2 separate regions of the Homo sapiens genome follow, and region 2 is linked to region 1. Evidence: fine-mapped expression QTL. Tissue or cell type: sun-exposed skin. Region 1 holds a variant in brackets; the other region holds the start of a gene. All regions are shown on one strand. Distances are between the middles of the regions.

Region 1 (8,186 bases):
ATCACACATCATAGGGGATATCATGGGTCATGAAATACAGGCACTTGCAGTTCCCACTGGGGTTGCATTTTTCTTGAATTATTTACCACCAGAATTTCCTGACAGTGGGAAAAGACCAGTAGTGTGTGTTTTGTATGGGGGTAGGGGTCCTTGAATTGTAATTAATCTGTCTCTAGGAGATCAATGTATCTGACAGAGCCAGGGTCCATAAATTAGTACAATCAGTGTCTTTATGGCATCATGCAAGTTTCATGGCATGAGAAACCACATTTCCAGAAAGAGCAGTGAGTGGAAAACACTTTGGAATACATTGCCTCTGATTCCTGTAAGGTGACATTTTCTTCAGGCTACATTAGGTCTAATCATTAGGGTGAATACTACCCATTGGGAAAATGCATGTCAGAATCTTAAAGTAGGCAGAAATGTGATGGTTTTTCAACAAAAAGTATGTTCTGTCTCCAAAAACCATACATAGAGAGAACAGTTACGTAAGAAATAATTACAATTTGACTGTATAAGCTCAGTACAATGAGACCTTTCCTAAGGTTCTCTGTCACCTTTGGGATGAGGCCAAACCTCTCAGCAAATGAGGAATGCAGGCCCCTCAGTAAGCTGCCTTCTGCCACCTTTTCTAGCTCAACACTCAGGTTCCCGATTTAGATCTTATGCCCTGGGTTGTGCTGAACTATTTGTATTTCCCAAAACATACCATGTTTTACATTTGGCGCTGCTTCTCTTCCTGTCTTCTCTGCCGGGAATTTTTTTTTTTTTTTTTTTTTTGAGATGGAGTCTTGCTCTGTCATCCAGGCTGGAGTGCAGTGGCGTGATCTCGGCTCTTTGCAAGCTCCGCTTCCCGGGTTCACACCATTCTCCTGCCTCAGCCTCCTGAGTAGCTGGGATTACAGGTACATGCCACCACCCCCCTGCCGGGAATTCTTTCTTCTCTTTCTGTCTGGCAAAGCTCCATCCTTAATGATTCAGTCAGAATATCACCTCCTCTGCACAGTTGCTTACTCCCTCCTATGTGCCACTAGTTTTCTCTTAACTTGCCGTTCTTTTAATCCCCCAGTTCTCAGCACTGCCGCTGTGACTAGGCCATGAGCTCCTTTAAGGCAAAGATAATGTCCTGTTCCTCCCTTTTCTCCAAAGCCAGCCAGAGGGACAAGAACATAGCAGGTGCTCTGACAAAGTGATTTTGATGAAGACAGAGGATGCCATAAATCCCAGCAACTCTCAAAATAACACATATTGTATGAAACGGATATGAATTCCAGAGTAGAAGTAAAAACATAAGGATGATTTTGCCATAAGACAAAATGGCATAAGGCACCATAGAACGGTAATCTTGTCCTATAAGGTTTGAATGGGCCACTATAATTGAGTCACGTGTAAGATATTATATGTAAAGCCAGTTATATGTTGATGAGTAACTTGTTCCTTCTACCTGAAATTTTCTTATTTTTCATGTCCAAATTTCATCCTTAAGTGAAGGCCCAGTTCATTCACCAGCTCTCCGACAGGGTTTTCAATGTTAGCTTCAGGGGTACTTCATTCCATCTTTCTCTGAGTTTATATGGTGCTTTAATTACTTTTCTCTTGTGATATTTATAAGTCTCTCTCTCTTACATTGTGATCTATATATAATTTATTATGAAATTTATGTAAATTATTAAGGCTCATATCTCCCATGAAATTAGAATATACTTCAGGTCTGTTCTAGTTATCAATTGTTGTGTAACAAATAATCTAAAAATAGTTATTTAAAATACAACAACCATTTATCTCTCATGATTTCTAGGGGTCAGAAATTTGAGAATCATCTAGTTGGGCAATTCTGGCTTGGAGTTTCTTCTGTAGTCATAGATGGTTCAGTCTTGGGCATATCTGCATAGATCTGCAGTCTTCTGCAGTCGGCAGATAGTGACTAGAGCCGGAACAGTGGAAGGCAGCTAAGGGCTGACTGGACATCTCTCTTCTCCATGTGTTTGCTCCGCGTGAGTTAGTTTGGGCTTCCGCACAAGATGGCAACCTCAAACTTCTCAAATGGCAGCTCAAGGCCCTCAAAGCAAGTATCCCAAGAAAACCAGAAGTTGCATTACCTTTTATGACCTGGCCTCAGAAGTCAGGGTTGCTGTACAGTCAAGTCAGTTACAAAAGCCTGACCAAGTTCAAGAGGAGAGGGCATAGACTTCATAAAAAGTTCTGGAAGAGCATGTGGGACAGGAAATATTTCTGCTATTGTTTTTGGAATATGGATTTTGTCTTGCGTGTGTTTTTTATCTTTACTCCCAGCATTGGTTCTATGTGCTTGGCCTTGAGCTCAGTAAATATTTTTTGAATGGATAAATTAATGACTGCCGAGTTATAGTAACAACATTGTCTGGTACTAATATTCGAACCACCATACTTCCCTTGATATGGTTTGACTGTGTCCCCACCCAGATTTCATCTTAATTGTAGCTCCCATAATTCCCACATGTCGGGGGAAGGACCCTGGTGGGGGGTAGTTGAAACATGGGGATGGGTCTTTCCCAGGCTGTTCTCATGATAGTGAGTAAGTCTCACAAGATCTGATGGTATTATAAAGGGGAGTTCTCCTATACACACTCTCTAGCCTACCTCCATGTAAGACATGACTTGGCTCTTCCTTTGCCTTCCACCATGATGGTAGGGTCTCCCCAGCCATGTGAAACTGTGAGTCAATTAAACCTCTTTCCTTTATAAACTACCAGCATTGGGTATGTCTTTATTAGCAGCATGAGAACAGACTAATACATTCCTTATCCAGTCCTCAGCTACCGTCAGCTTTTTGTCCAAAAGAGGAATGAACAGAAGATACATTTTTTCTTGACACTAATTATTAGGAAGAATTGAATACATACTATTACTCCTCCCAAACAAATTCAAAGTCAGGACAAGAAAATGTTACCTTTAATTATTCTTGTAATTATTTGAGTAGCCATTCAAAGTATCAGAATATTTTTCCTCTGACTTTTCAAAAAAAAGTATTTTAATTTATGGATCTAGTATCTATCCACTTGAGAGAAGTTTCTAGGCTTTTTAGCAATATTTTATCTAATGTGAGAATTTTTATACCCTAAATATTAACATATGTATGTATGTATGTATGTGTATATATTATGAAATACTAGCCATATGTGTAAATACATACATACATATAGTGTATGTATGTAGGATAATATATATTCATGGATAACACTGTTCATTTTTCTCTTTTAGCAAGGGTGGAGTTCATTGAGTTCAAGAATGTTCTTCACAGCTGTTCTGTGTTTGGAACATATCATCATGCTGTAGTGTGCCTGTGTGTTTGTATTTGTGCATAATTTGGGGCATAAAGAAATATTTTAAAACAAGACATACCTATATGAGCAGAAAATCAGAAGTAGTAAGCTCTTGTGTTATTCGTTTACAATTTCTCTGTTCAAGACTAGTAGTTTGAGTCACTTATTACACTTTACTGTATGTTACACTAAAATTTTGTCTCCTTTTATAAATTACCAGTCTCTTGAGTCCAGGAATGATATTTGCAGCTTTACTGCAATCCAAGCAGATCCAACATGCCAACTAAGTGACCAGCTGACCTAAGGAGTATGAATGAAGGCATCGGTGGCAAAGCCCCACTCGGTGCCTGAAAGCACAAGATTCACACAATCCAGTTGTGGGTTTCTCATGGCTAAAACAGACAGTCTTAACTGACAGTTAACTTTAGGGGAGAAGCTATAAGCAAACACGGTATTATATTGTCTGAGTGTTTATCTCTTATGATAGGTTTTTTTTTCCTGCAGTAGACGTCTTGAAAAAGGTATGTAAAATGTAGGCAGCAAATATTCAAAACTGCACAGCCTGTTCCACAAGATTCCAGTTCTAAGAGTAAGTAAAAGAGAGGCAGGCCGGGCACGGGAGTTCATGCCTATAATCCCAGCACTTTGGGAGGCTGAGGCGGGCAGATCACATGAGGTCAGGAGTTCGAGACCAGCGAGGCCAACATGGTGAAACCCCGTCTCTACTAAAAATACAAAATTAGTCGGGTGTGGTGGTGCGCACCTGTAATCCCAGCTACTCTGGAGGCTAAGGAAGGAGAATCACTAGAACCCGGGAGGCAGAAGTTGCAGTGAGCTGAGATTGTGCCACTGCACTCCAGCCTGCGCAAAAAGAGAGAAACTCCATCAAAAAAAAAAAAAAAAAGAAAGAAAGAAAGGCAAACCCTTTTCTAAACCCATATTCACTTCTTCCCCTCATCTCCATCTCCTAGATTTCACTGTCTAGGATTTTCTCTCATTTTTGCTACACTGATGGGATTTGATTATACCAATTTGTTAAGCCTCAAATTCAGTTTCATTTCCTCCAATGTATCCTTCTTTTTTATGGGATGTGTTGTATAAATAAATGTTGTAGTATAAATAACAAAGTACCAGAATATGTGGGGTTAATTTCAATGAAGTAAATTACTAGTTTAGAGTTCTTGGTCTGAACACTTGGCCTCCCTCATAAAAAATCTGGTTAAGTATATTCCTCCCCTGGATGTGATCAAACAAGAGTGGTCAATGAGTTAGTCATTCAACCACAGAAACTGTACCAGAATCTGCAGGAAGTAAACAAATATTACAAAGCTGATGACCTCAAAGAGATCTGAGTTTTATAGGAGAGAGACAGAGATGATTAAACTGACAATA[A/G]TACCATTACGTACTGGATACAGCAGGCTCTAAGAGTATAGAATGGACTGCTAGATATATTTAACAAAAATATTTATATTAATTATAATTGACACCTGTCAGTAAGAATGTTTGGATATATGTGGAAAGTCTGAATACACTTGCCGTAGGTTAAATACCTGCAGTAAGAGAAATGCAAAGGTGTGTGAATAGCTCCTTCAACTCACATAGCAGGTTTGTATGCTCTACTCCCCCACACCATTCTTCCAGAGGTGGCGTGCTGTGGATTCTGAAGGGAGAAGTGGAGGGTTATCAGATGACTTGTTGTTTGGGCGATGGAGACAGTAATCACGTCCATGTCACTTTTGGAGAAAGTGAAAGAAGAGCGAGCAATTTACCCTATTTTAATGAAAGCAGATGGAGAGGTCATGGGAACTTGTTTAAGGCATTAGCGAACTGCCTCTTCAAATTAAGGACTTTTGAGAATTGAAAGAGTTCTGAGAAACCCTGATGGCTCACAAGATTGTGTGTTCTTACTCAGTGATCAGCCATCTAAGTCTCCTAAACATTAAACCACAGGAATATGCAAGGGCATGGTTTATTGCTTTAATGAAATGTAGGTAGGCAGATTCAAGGTAAGGTGGTGGAACAATCAGAGACAGTCAGAGTTTCCCATTGAGCTGCCCCCCATTTAATGGAATCACAGGCTTTAATGAATCACAGAGCCATCTGGTAGAAATAAAGTAACAATGTCTGAGAAGATTTTTAAATGTGCACGCATTTGAATAATGTTTCCAAGTTTTGGGAGTCTGTATCTGAAAGTGCAAATATCCTTATATATTGGAATGATTAAGCATCTCCCCTAAAAGTGCAACTTAGTTTTAAAAGAAATTAATCCATCTAAAATCTTGTGAGGTTGTACCAATATAGACATTTTAATCACACAAGACGCTATCAAACAAAGTAAGGTAAAAGAAAGAAGAAAAGGGAAAGGAAGGAAAGAGGAAGGAAGAGGAGAAGGAGGGAGGGTGGGAGCAAGGAAGGAAGGGAGGAAAATGGAAGAAAGGAAGAAATAAAGAAAGAAAACTATGCTTTTGTTTGGACTAGAGAAGCCAGTATTCACCTAGTGAGGGAAATATATTTATCTTGTGGTCCTTTTTAGTAACGTAAAAAAATACAAGATATCTGAGATTTTTATACTAAATAATTGAGTTTTACTTACATGTTTTATGTAAGGTTGGTGATTTGGGACTAACATGAAAAAGATGTTAGACCTGAAATAGCCATTGGCCATCATTGAGTTAAAATTTAGTTTGTTACTGTCGAGTAAAATGAGGTTGATAAAGGAAGCAATTCTCTTTTAGGCTATGCAACAATGGCTTATATAAAAATATACCAGAACTCAGCAATAAAGAAACAAGTCAAGGTCTTATATTATCTAACTCAAATTACATAGCTTTTGGAACCTTGAATTTCCATATAGGTTAGGCATTTTCTATGTCACACATCTAATAATACATACACTAATTTAAATTTAAAAACACATGGTGACTAACAAAGATAGAAAAGAGAAGAGAAATATATACTCAACTGGATTTCTTTACTGAACACAGCAAACCAAAAATTGGTTTAAATTATTCATAAGCAAAAATAATCTTCTATATGAATGACATCAGAATTAAATTCTGGTCTAGTTCAAATGATTATTATCCAATCTTACCATGTGGAAAAACATGTCCTTTAAAAAGAAAAATTTAGCATGAAATTGAGAGTTCTATAGAAAACAATCGTTAACCCTTAAATCTAAAGGTTGAGATCAATAGCATGATTTTATAGTATTTTCACAGAAAAAAAAATCCTCAATCTTAAAATAATTAAACTTATTGAATCAGTTAAAATTTCGCAGAGTTGAAGACTAATCAATAAAAGAAAATGGGTATTCTCAGTTCCTCACCAAGCTTCCTTGATAAGGATACAGAACCCCTGAAGGAGAAGGAGAACATATTATACTTTACAAGGGTATGGGCCTCAGCAGCCAAGGCTTGGGTGGAAGGACGCAGAAACCAGAGGCAAGAGCAGCCCTCCATTGACAGGACAAAAGAAGAGTATGCATAGTACATGCAAACTTTAAGCACACATTCAGGGGATGTTCAAGGGTGATGTCAGGTAGAGCCTGGCAGACACAAGAACCTTAGTGCCAAGAGAGAATGGGCTCAAAGCTGTAAAGAAAAGAGGCTCCAGCTCTGTGAAGTTACCATATTCTTGGGAGAAAGAGCAAACAATAGAGTATGAAATAAAGCCAGACGAAGAATACAAGAACGTAGAGAAATGCAGGAAAGAATAAAGATATTAGAAGGGAAGCTAGGGGAAAGGAATAGTTTCCTCTGTCCCTCAGGTCCAGTGGTAGATGGGGATCTGGATCCAGTGTCTTGCGAGATGAAGTCTGCATGAACTCAGAAGGGTGTTTGGCTCCAGCCAAGCAGCACAGGGACCAGAGTAGAACACTCATCTTAATCAGGATAAGGAAAGGCTTCCCTTGGGAAAAATAAAGTGGAGCTCAAGAATTATAGATATATTTCGAAGAAGAAAAGAGGCTCCAGCTCTGTGAAGTTACCAGATTCTTGAGAGAAAGAGAAAAAAGGGAAGAGAAGATAAAGAAAGTCCGAGAAGGAATACAAGAAAGTGGAGAAAGGCAGGTGTGAAAGAAGATATTAGAGGGGAAGATAGAGGAAAGGACAAATCTCAGATATTCTAGAGTTAAGTGCTCCTGTCACCGCCACTAAAGGATTATGAGACTTCCTGGTTCTATAAGATTCACAGTTCCCACTCCATATGTGAGCCCGGTCCAGTGGAGATACCCAGAATTTGTCATGGGAGACAGAGTCCTTGCTCAGACACCTACTATACAATATGGATACCATCAAATGAATCACCTTATCTCTTTATGCATCAATTTCCTCTTCTGCAAAACTAGAATAAAAATATTTTATCCACACAGGCTTATTGTGAACACTAATACACAATGTGTGTGTATGTGTGCATATGTTTTTTTTTTTCTTTTTGAGACTGAGTCCTGCTCCGTCACCCAGGCTGGAATGCAGTGGCACGATCTCTGCTCACTGCAAATTCTGCCTCCCAGGTTCACGAGATTCTGGTGCCTTAGCCCCCGAGTAGTTGGGATTACAGATGCCCCACCACCACGCCCAGGTAATTTTTGTATTTTTAGTAGAGACAGGGTTTCACCATGTTGGCCAGGCTGTTCTCGAACTTCTGAGCTCAAGTGATCTGCCTGCCTCAACCTCCCGAAGTGTTGGGATTATAGGCGTGAGCCACCACACCTGGCCCACAATACATTTTTAATTTAAAAATTTAAGATAAAATTTAGCACTTGCTGTGTGCTGGGGAATGTGTCAATAAATTTCCCTGAGTTAGTCCATTTAGCTCCCCTCTGCAGCCTTATGAAGTAAATGCTACTTCCTAAAATTTTAATGACTTATATGAAAGTATTCTGTA
Region 2 (8,186 bases), 110 kb after region 1:
GGGTGAGTATGTTAACTGCCTAAGGCAGTGAAGGACAGGAGATGGAACAGTTCATTTCATTAAAGGATAAAGTGGGGCATATAATTTTCCTGAACCCTTACTCCAAGCTCCAAGGCCAATTTTAAAGGATGACAGTTTGAGCCAAGGACCTGTTCAGTAAAATTTGGAGTAAAGCTTTTCAAATAGTGCCAAAGAAGCAACCAAAAACAAAAAAAAAAAAAGAGAGAGAGAGGATACATCAGATGGCACCAGCAGAAAAGATCACATACATTTGATTGACTCCTAATCACTCCCCTGTAACTTTTTTCCCCACACAAATTCCTCACACCGGAAATGTTCATTTAAAACAATTAAAAATCCTTCAGGGAACCCCCACCCCACTCCCTGCTACCACATGATCAGCCCAGGGGCTCACATGCTGAAATCTATAGAGAGCTTTAGGTCTCAGAGTATTTGAAGGATAGGCAGGGATCTCACCACCTTAACACAGAAGCAGTCCTACACCCCAATCAGGGAAAGCCTTGGACACTATCTATTGCTACCTTTAGCCTGGGGCAAAGGAGAAAGAGAACTGCACAGCTGTCCTAAACAAGTAGGGTATGAGACCTCTCTCTTCCACCAAGAATAATAATAAGATAGCCTTGATTGAAAACTCACTGTGCGTCAGACACTATGCTTACATGTATGAACTCACAACAATTCAGTGAGGTAACCACTATTATTATCTCTTTTTTACAGATAAGGAAGTTTCCTGATGCCCACAAAGTTTAAATAACGGACTCGAGGTTACCCAGCAATAAATGTTGAAAAAGAGTTTAAATTAGTTGGCTTTCAGAGTTTGTGTTTTGGACAACTATATTCTACTTTGGACAGCACTGTATTTTCTCATTGTAAAAGCAGGCAGGATGGAGTAAAAAATAAAAGTCAAAACAATTTGAAAACAATATTTTGTGATGAACATAAAACATTTTCTACAATCAGCATCCTTCATTTGATTGTCTTACTTTATTATCTGGTAAGTGCCAAAAGAAGACAAAGTGTAGATGTATTTTCCTTAGTTTACTTTTAGCTCCCTTTATTTCAAGCCTCACAGTCAATGTGTTCCCTGCCTTATGTTTCAAGGGGGCTCCAGGGTATTTTTTCTCCCATGTGATTACAAAAGCAGTTAGCCGTTTAGCCTAGCAGGGGGAATGAGAGGAAACGGAGAGGCCAAAAATTTTAAACTTTAGGCACTATATCTCCAATAACTGACAACATTTTATCTTAATTATGCTTTATAGTATTGGAATACTAAACAAAGAGGAACGACCTGCTTACTCTGTAGTCTGGAGCAGAATGAAATAGAACACGTAGGGCAGAACACAACAAATGAGTTGTAAATGTCTGTGCACAAGGCTTGATCTTGGGGATGGAGGGAGGATATTTTTTAAGTTATTCAAACGCTGAGTTGCTTTCAAAGAGTTCTTCTCAGACATCAACAATGAACTCTTCAGATACCCTCATCCCAGACAGCCCTGAAGTCCAGTTTATAACAAGACCAATAACTCACTCCTTATCTCTAAAGCTACTTGTTCAATTCTCTTGACTTCAGGGCCAAAATGAGTTGTTTATTACTTATGGCAAGTATAAAAAAGGCCATCTCAACCTGTGGTCAGTTCCACGAATGGCAACTTGTTTTCTGATAACTTGCATGCACATGGACAATAGCCAAATTTCCAAAAAGATTTAGGTACATCAATTGTATACCGATGGTCATTTAAAACCATTTTTTCCAGCAATATTTTAGCATCTAATTTGATAAATCACTGCATTTGGAGGCTGTGGGGGTGTACAGAGACCTTCAGAAAGCAAACATAAACTGGAGGCTTGGCGGTTTGAAGATATTCAAGCAGAAAAGTCTAGCAAAGAAAAAGGGGGTTGTAATATGGATCAGTCTCCATGTAACCTTGAGCCAATCATCTAACTTCTCTGAAACACCAGTTTTCTCATTTTATGAAACAAGATTTTATTCAATAAACACTATAACTTAGTGAAAGACTGGATCTGGTATCCCGTAGGCTTGGATGGATTGCTGGTACTAGTATTGGAGCTTTTGTTTCCCTGTTTGTTACAATTCGGATATTAGTGAGTACCCTACAGAGGAATAATGATTAAATTGTCTACTTAATTTACTCTTAAGTGTCTGACCACGTATAAGTGGTCAATACAGGCTGTTTTCATTTTTACTATTACTGATGGAACACACTGCATGACTAGCATTGGGAAAGAGGCCCAGAATACAAGGTTGTGCAGAATGCAAAGTCTATTCTCAAGGAATTCGCTTTGTAGGGAAGAGGTGGGGGGTTCAAATAGGAAGTATCAAATTCCTCATTGGGAAAGAAAAGAGGCTTCATAGAAAAGCTGCTGGAGCCCAGGCTTAAAGATGAGTAGCATTGGGGCCAGAACCAGATGTCTAAGAACTCTTTGAGGCTTAATGTTAGGAACTTTTGAAACTATTGGTCTGGAATGTTGTATATATGAAGTTCATTTTTTCAGCATCCAATATTCAGAACACATTCATTCATTAACTTTCCATCCAGAAATGTAATCATTAACTACTGCTGGAGCCTCCTTTCCCACAAAACCAAACAAAACTTGCTTAGCAATCCCAATTCTGAGGCTTGGAAAACACTTTTACATCCTACTCTCTGCTTGCATGTATGAACTCACATACATGAGTTGTGAGGTACTCCTCCTATATTCAGAAAATTGGAGGCCAATATCATAGGCACAGCCAGGGAATGCACCGGCCAAAGCTCAGGCTTTTGGGTGGCATTTGACACCAAGCTCCTTTTAAATCGGGCATCAGCTCTGGGTCAGCAGCCTCACTCCAGTCAAAGAAGAGGAGCCAAACGTCGCAGGAGCAATTTCAAAGACGTCTGGGGAACGAAAAGGGTCTTCGATCCAAGGACCAGCCTAGGGGCCATCGGGAACCAAGGCTCTGGGGGATCCCAGCAGGGCCCAGACGCCCGCCTCGGGCAATGTCGCTGCCTGCCCCGGGCCGCTCGCAGTGCCTGGGCCATACTGGGGTGCCCTGGGGTTTCTTCTCCATACCCAGACTCAGCTTCCCCGCTGGAGTCTGTCTTCCTGGAACACGGAACGCGGGCGGGCTGTGTTCTCAGTCACAATCAGCTCGGATGAGCTGGGGGGCGCGGGCGCAAGCGGGCATCGGCACCTGGCAGAAAGCGCCGCGCCCCCCGCGGGTGCGCACACCTCCGCTCCCCGGGGCGGCGCGCGGTCGGGTGTGCGGGGTACGGGGCGGGGCGGAGCGGAGCAGAGCAAAGCGCACAGGAGGCCCGCCTCTGCTCCCCTCCCCCGCCGGCGAAGATTGACACAGCTCGAGCACCCGCCCCAACCAATGAGCGCGTCCTGGGGCGGGCCCTGGGACCGGCTGCTCCGGCTACTTAGAGTCGTCGGCGCGGCGGTGGGAAAGCAGAGCCGAGCCGGGACTGTCCAGTGGGAGCAGGCGCCCCGGCCAGCGCAGACCTGGAGGCGCACGGGCGCCGCACCGCACGATTCGGCTCGGGGTAGAGCGGAGCCGCAGCCCCACGCGCAGCCCAGGACCCACTCGCCACCGCCGCTTCCTCAGCACCCATGGGGACCAGGAGACTTTAAAGGAGTTTGGGGTTTCGGGAGCAGGGAAATCACGGGTAGGGAGAAGCGGCTTTCTTTGCCTTGGAAACGGTTTTTCTTCATCCGATTGTTTGGATCCTGTGCTGGGTAGGAGGGAGAGGGGTCTTTGGGCTAAAAGTGAACCTCTCTACACACACACGCTCCCACCCACACCCACACACATACACTGCACTGGCTTTCTCCATCCTTCCCCTGCCTCTTTGTTAGGTTATTTTAGACAGAGCAGCCTCGCCCTGGCGCAGTCCCATTGGCCCTGATGGGGACAAGGCAAGAGAAGTAAGGGGCAGAGTGCACCTGCCTGTGAGGGCAGGTGTGCCCGGGTGCTTGGGCGTACGTGCAACGGCGAGCGTGCAAGCGTGGAGCTGAAATTGTGTACGAATGTGTGGGGTCTAAGTGTGCCAGTGTGTCGTCGCGAAGGTTTGTCATTGTGGGTGTATGTGACATACACCAGTATACCAGGCTGCCAGTGTCTGGACTCCCAAGTGTCCAAAATGTTGCTGGTGTCAAGTGAATGCCTGAGAATGTGTCTGATTGTCATTGTGCGAGCCGCTGTAAGGGGAGGAAGGCAACCTAGTGCAAAACTGGGAGGTGGGCTGGAGAGGGTGGGGACAGAAATGGGAGCTTGCTCCCAGCTCACTGGCCTTAGGCTCCCTTCTCCCTTTCAGCCCACCCCTCGGTCCTTCCTGGGTGTCCGTCTCCCACACTGCCACAGCCAGCACTCTCCTCCCCACCGGGACCCCGCAAGCTCTCCAGCCAGCCTGGGTGTTTTCTTCTGGGAGTTGGACCGAGTTCCCGGAAGGGGTCGGAGGCTGTGTGGTGGCGTCTGCTCTCGCCTGACCTGTGGCGGCTTCTCCGCCCCTCGTACCCCTGGGGAGGCACGGAGGACTCGGCTGGAAAGGGTGACTCCGGTGAGGGCACGTAAGCTAGCCGGCAGGTCCCAGGGGCACTGCACGTCTTGGGGAGGGACACCGAAAGGGGCAGCCCGGACTCTGACGGTGTCTCTGCCTCTCTGTGCCTCCGCAGATCCCCGCTCCTGGCCCTCGCCTCGCCACCTCATTGATGGGCAACCAACTGGACCGCATCACCCACCTCAACTACAGCGAGTTGCCCACAGGGGACCCGTCGGGGATTGAAAAGGACGAACTGCGGGTCGGGGTTGCCTACTTCTTCTCGGATGATGAGGAAGACCTGGACGAACGCGGGCAGCCCGACAAGTTTGGCGTGAAGGCCCCCCCGGGTTGCACCCCCTGCCCGGAGAGCCCCAGCCGCCACCACCACCACCTGCTGCACCAGCTGGTCCTCAACGAGACTCAGTTTTCCGCCTTTCGGGGCCAGGAATGCATCTTTTCCAAAGTGAGCGGTGGCCCTCAGGGCGCCGACCTAAGCGTCTACGCGGTCACCGCGCTGCCAGCGCTCTGCGAACCCGGCGACCTGCTGGAGCTGCTGTGGCTGCAGCCCGCGCCGGAGCCGCCCGCGCCCGCCCCGCACTGGGCCGTCTACGTGGGCGGCGGGCAGATCATCCACCTGCACCAAGGCGAGATCCGCCAGGACAGCCTGTATGAGGCGGGCGCGGCCAACGTGGGCCGGGTGGTGAATAGCTGGTACCGCTACCGCCCGCTGGTGGCCGAGCTGGTGGTGCAGAACGCCTGCGGCCACCTGGGCCTCAAGAGCGAGGAGATCTGCTGGACGAACTCGGAGAGCTTCGCCGCCTGGTGCCGCTTTGGCAAGCGGGAGTTCAAGGCGGGAGGGGAGGTGCCGGCAGGCACGCAGCCCCCGCAGCAGCAGTACTATCTCAAGGTGCACCTGGGAGAGAACAAGGTCCACACCGCCAGGTTTCACAGCCTGGAAGACCTCATCCGCGAGAAGCGCCGTATCGACGCCAGCGGCCGCCTGCGAGTGCTCCAGGAGCTCGCCGACCTCGTGGACGACAAGGAGTAGCCGCCTAGGGGCTGCCGGCCCCTCTGCCTCCCCCGCACCTCGCTCCCTTCCCTTCCCCGCACCCGGACTTCGCAGTCAGCGGTTCTCAACCTCTGCCCCGCCCCGCCACGCGCGTCCGCCGCCGGTGGCCCGGGCCCGGGCTGCACCCCCGCATCCCCAAGCCAGCGGCAGGAAGTCTCAGGAACTGCCCCAGGGCCGAAAGGGCGCCGCTGCGAGCGCCTGGCTGACAGCCACAGCGGTGGTGACGGTGCTGGGAGACCCCGCGTGCGCTTTCCCCTTGAGATGTAAACCGGGAACGGGGAAGGGGCTGAGGGGAGAAAGGACATGGCCTTCCCCGCGAGTCCATGGCCAGTGACTGTGGCCCGACTCGAAAACAACCCTCTTCTCAAAAGGGACCATCACCGCCCCGAGCGTGCGCACACAGACCGGTCGGAGGCGAGAACTGGTCTCTACAGGGCACAGTTCAGCTCCTCTGTGGATGCGTCCCCAGATCGCAGGATTTCCAAGAAATCGAGCCTGTCCCTTGTGCACTTGGGAATAATTCCCCAAGACAGCACTTCGGGATTCCGGGTTATCCTGAGGCTGCCCGGGACTTTTCCAGCTCTCCAGCCCCAGGTCTCCTGACATTGTGTTCCAGGCTGCGGGCTAAGCCAGACAGTGTTTGCCTCCGGTTCTTTCCACCGTGGGAAGCGAACGCCACCCCCACCCGCCTTTGCCTGCGAGTCTCCCTCGCTGGCAGAAGGGAAGCCGGCCCGGTCCCGGGAGGAAGATGGCGCTGCGAATTCGGTGAGGACAGCCGGCCCCGCCCCCGACAAGGAGCTCGCTCGTTCACCTGGTGTCTGGGAACTTGAATGTGTGAAGGGCGCTTATTGTTCTGAACCCTTGATTGCTCCCTCCTCGGGCTGCATTTCAAAAATAGTCATATTTTTAAAGGAGTTGGAGGAGAGGGAGGGGGAGGACATGGCACCATTCCAGAAACCAGCATTGTTACAACACCATAGCCAGTATATTTAGTTTGGCTTTTCCTAACATAGAAATCTTCAAAGCTGGGGAAGTGGAAATAAAGTTTTAAAAATGAGAGAGCAGTTTTCCAACTATGTCAACAAAGCCTATCGTGTTGATGTTTTTATTGACCATTTTAGCAACAGGCTAATAAAATTTCAAATTGAAATTTTTATTTTCATGGCTTTAATCCATGATAGTTTAAATACTGGGGGCCATTAAGAGTGGATGTAGCTAAGAGCTTAGCTAACATTGCCTTTTCACTCTATTTTTCTCAGATATTGTAAGCATTCTGTTTTTCAATATTGTAGTTAATTTTTTGGCTTTCAACAGCAGCCCTAGTAATGGTGGAGTTGTTAATTAATGTGTATATTGTACTGAATTTCTGTCAGTTAAGGGGTTCACTGCTTTGGTGGAAATTGGTGGAAATTGCTAGCAGGTTCCACGATGTTTATTTTTTTCTCCATGTTGTATATCATTACCATTTCACATACGCGTTTCTATTTTTCTTCCTCTCCTCCTGATCTCCTTAAAAATGAATCTAGAGTTGGTGGCTTTTTCCCCCTCCTCTTTGGCCAGTTCCACAGTTCAGTTCTTCCTGAAAACAGGGATGATGAACTTGTAGGATCAGGACAAATGTGTGTTTTTCAAAAACTTAAGGCTGGGTGTGAAACACCTTCTGTGGACAAGGATTTGTAAACTTCTCTCCTCCCTCCAGCTGCGGCCCCAGCCTAACTGATAGTTACTTGATTCAGTGTGCTAGACACTTAAATAGCATCTATGTCTCTTTCAAGGGAATTTGTCAAATAATGCTGTTTAGCTAATTGTTGCAAGCAATTGCATATTAACAGCTGTGATTTTGTTGGACAGCAAGTATTATGGCCAAAGCCAGTTTCTTGGCATTTCAAAAATAATGCAATAAAAACTAGTTGAGGTTAGCTGAGGCTGGAAATGCCTTTTTCATGGTAAATGATTCACTTCTATATTTTTCTTTCTTTTTCTTTTTTTTTCTTTGGTTTTCATCCTGGATTCATCCCCTGATCTTAAATCAAAACGTCAGATCAATGAACTATGAACTAAAGTATTTTTCTTAAGCCTATTGAGTGATTTATTTTTTAAAAAATGTTTAAATGCATATGCTTTTCTTTCAGCACAAACAACAGCAAAAACTTTTGTAATAACTAACTTACCTTTGCATGTATGAAGAACTGAGTCATTTATTTCCCTAACTTACTCCTCTTTCAAGTAACAGGTGGCAGATCATAAAATGAATTCTTTATTGTATCTACACACTCCACATTCTTTACTGTGTCCTACTACTGTATCTTGGCTCCCTGCTGTATTAAACACCATCTTAAGCACTTGTTCCTGCAGGACTCCTTCTTGACATTTTGTCTCCCCCTTCAAAGTCACTCAAAGAGTGGGACTTCATCAAAAGAAATGAATTAGTCTCTATCACACCGAATACTAAGATTTATTTCCTCTGATGGTACATAGATTTCTCTCTCACTAAGAGGGTCACTCTCATAGAGGAATGTCTTGTCAGTTTTATACTTGCTGAGGCTAGACTGACA

The links. PIP is the estimated chance that this variant, and not a neighbour inherited with it, causes the effect.
Region 2: it holds the start of LRATD1, and the variant in region 1 is fine-mapped to the expression of LRATD1 in sun-exposed skin (GTEx, PIP 0.98).

The regions. Positions count from the first base shown.
Region 1 is chr2:14,519,673-14,527,858 of GRCh38, forward strand. No RefSeq gene overlaps it. Among named protein-coding and RNA genes, the nearest start is that of LRATD1, 110 kb to the right of the region's middle. The variant A/G (reference allele first, on the strand shown) is at 4,695.
Region 2 is chr2:14,629,249-14,637,434 of GRCh38, forward strand. LRATD1 (LRAT domain containing 1) reads left to right here and starts at 3,469. Exons shown (of 2, transcript NM_145175.4): 1 at 3,469-3,689; 2 at 4,696-8,186. The coding sequence starts at 4,732. The coding sequence ends at 5,610.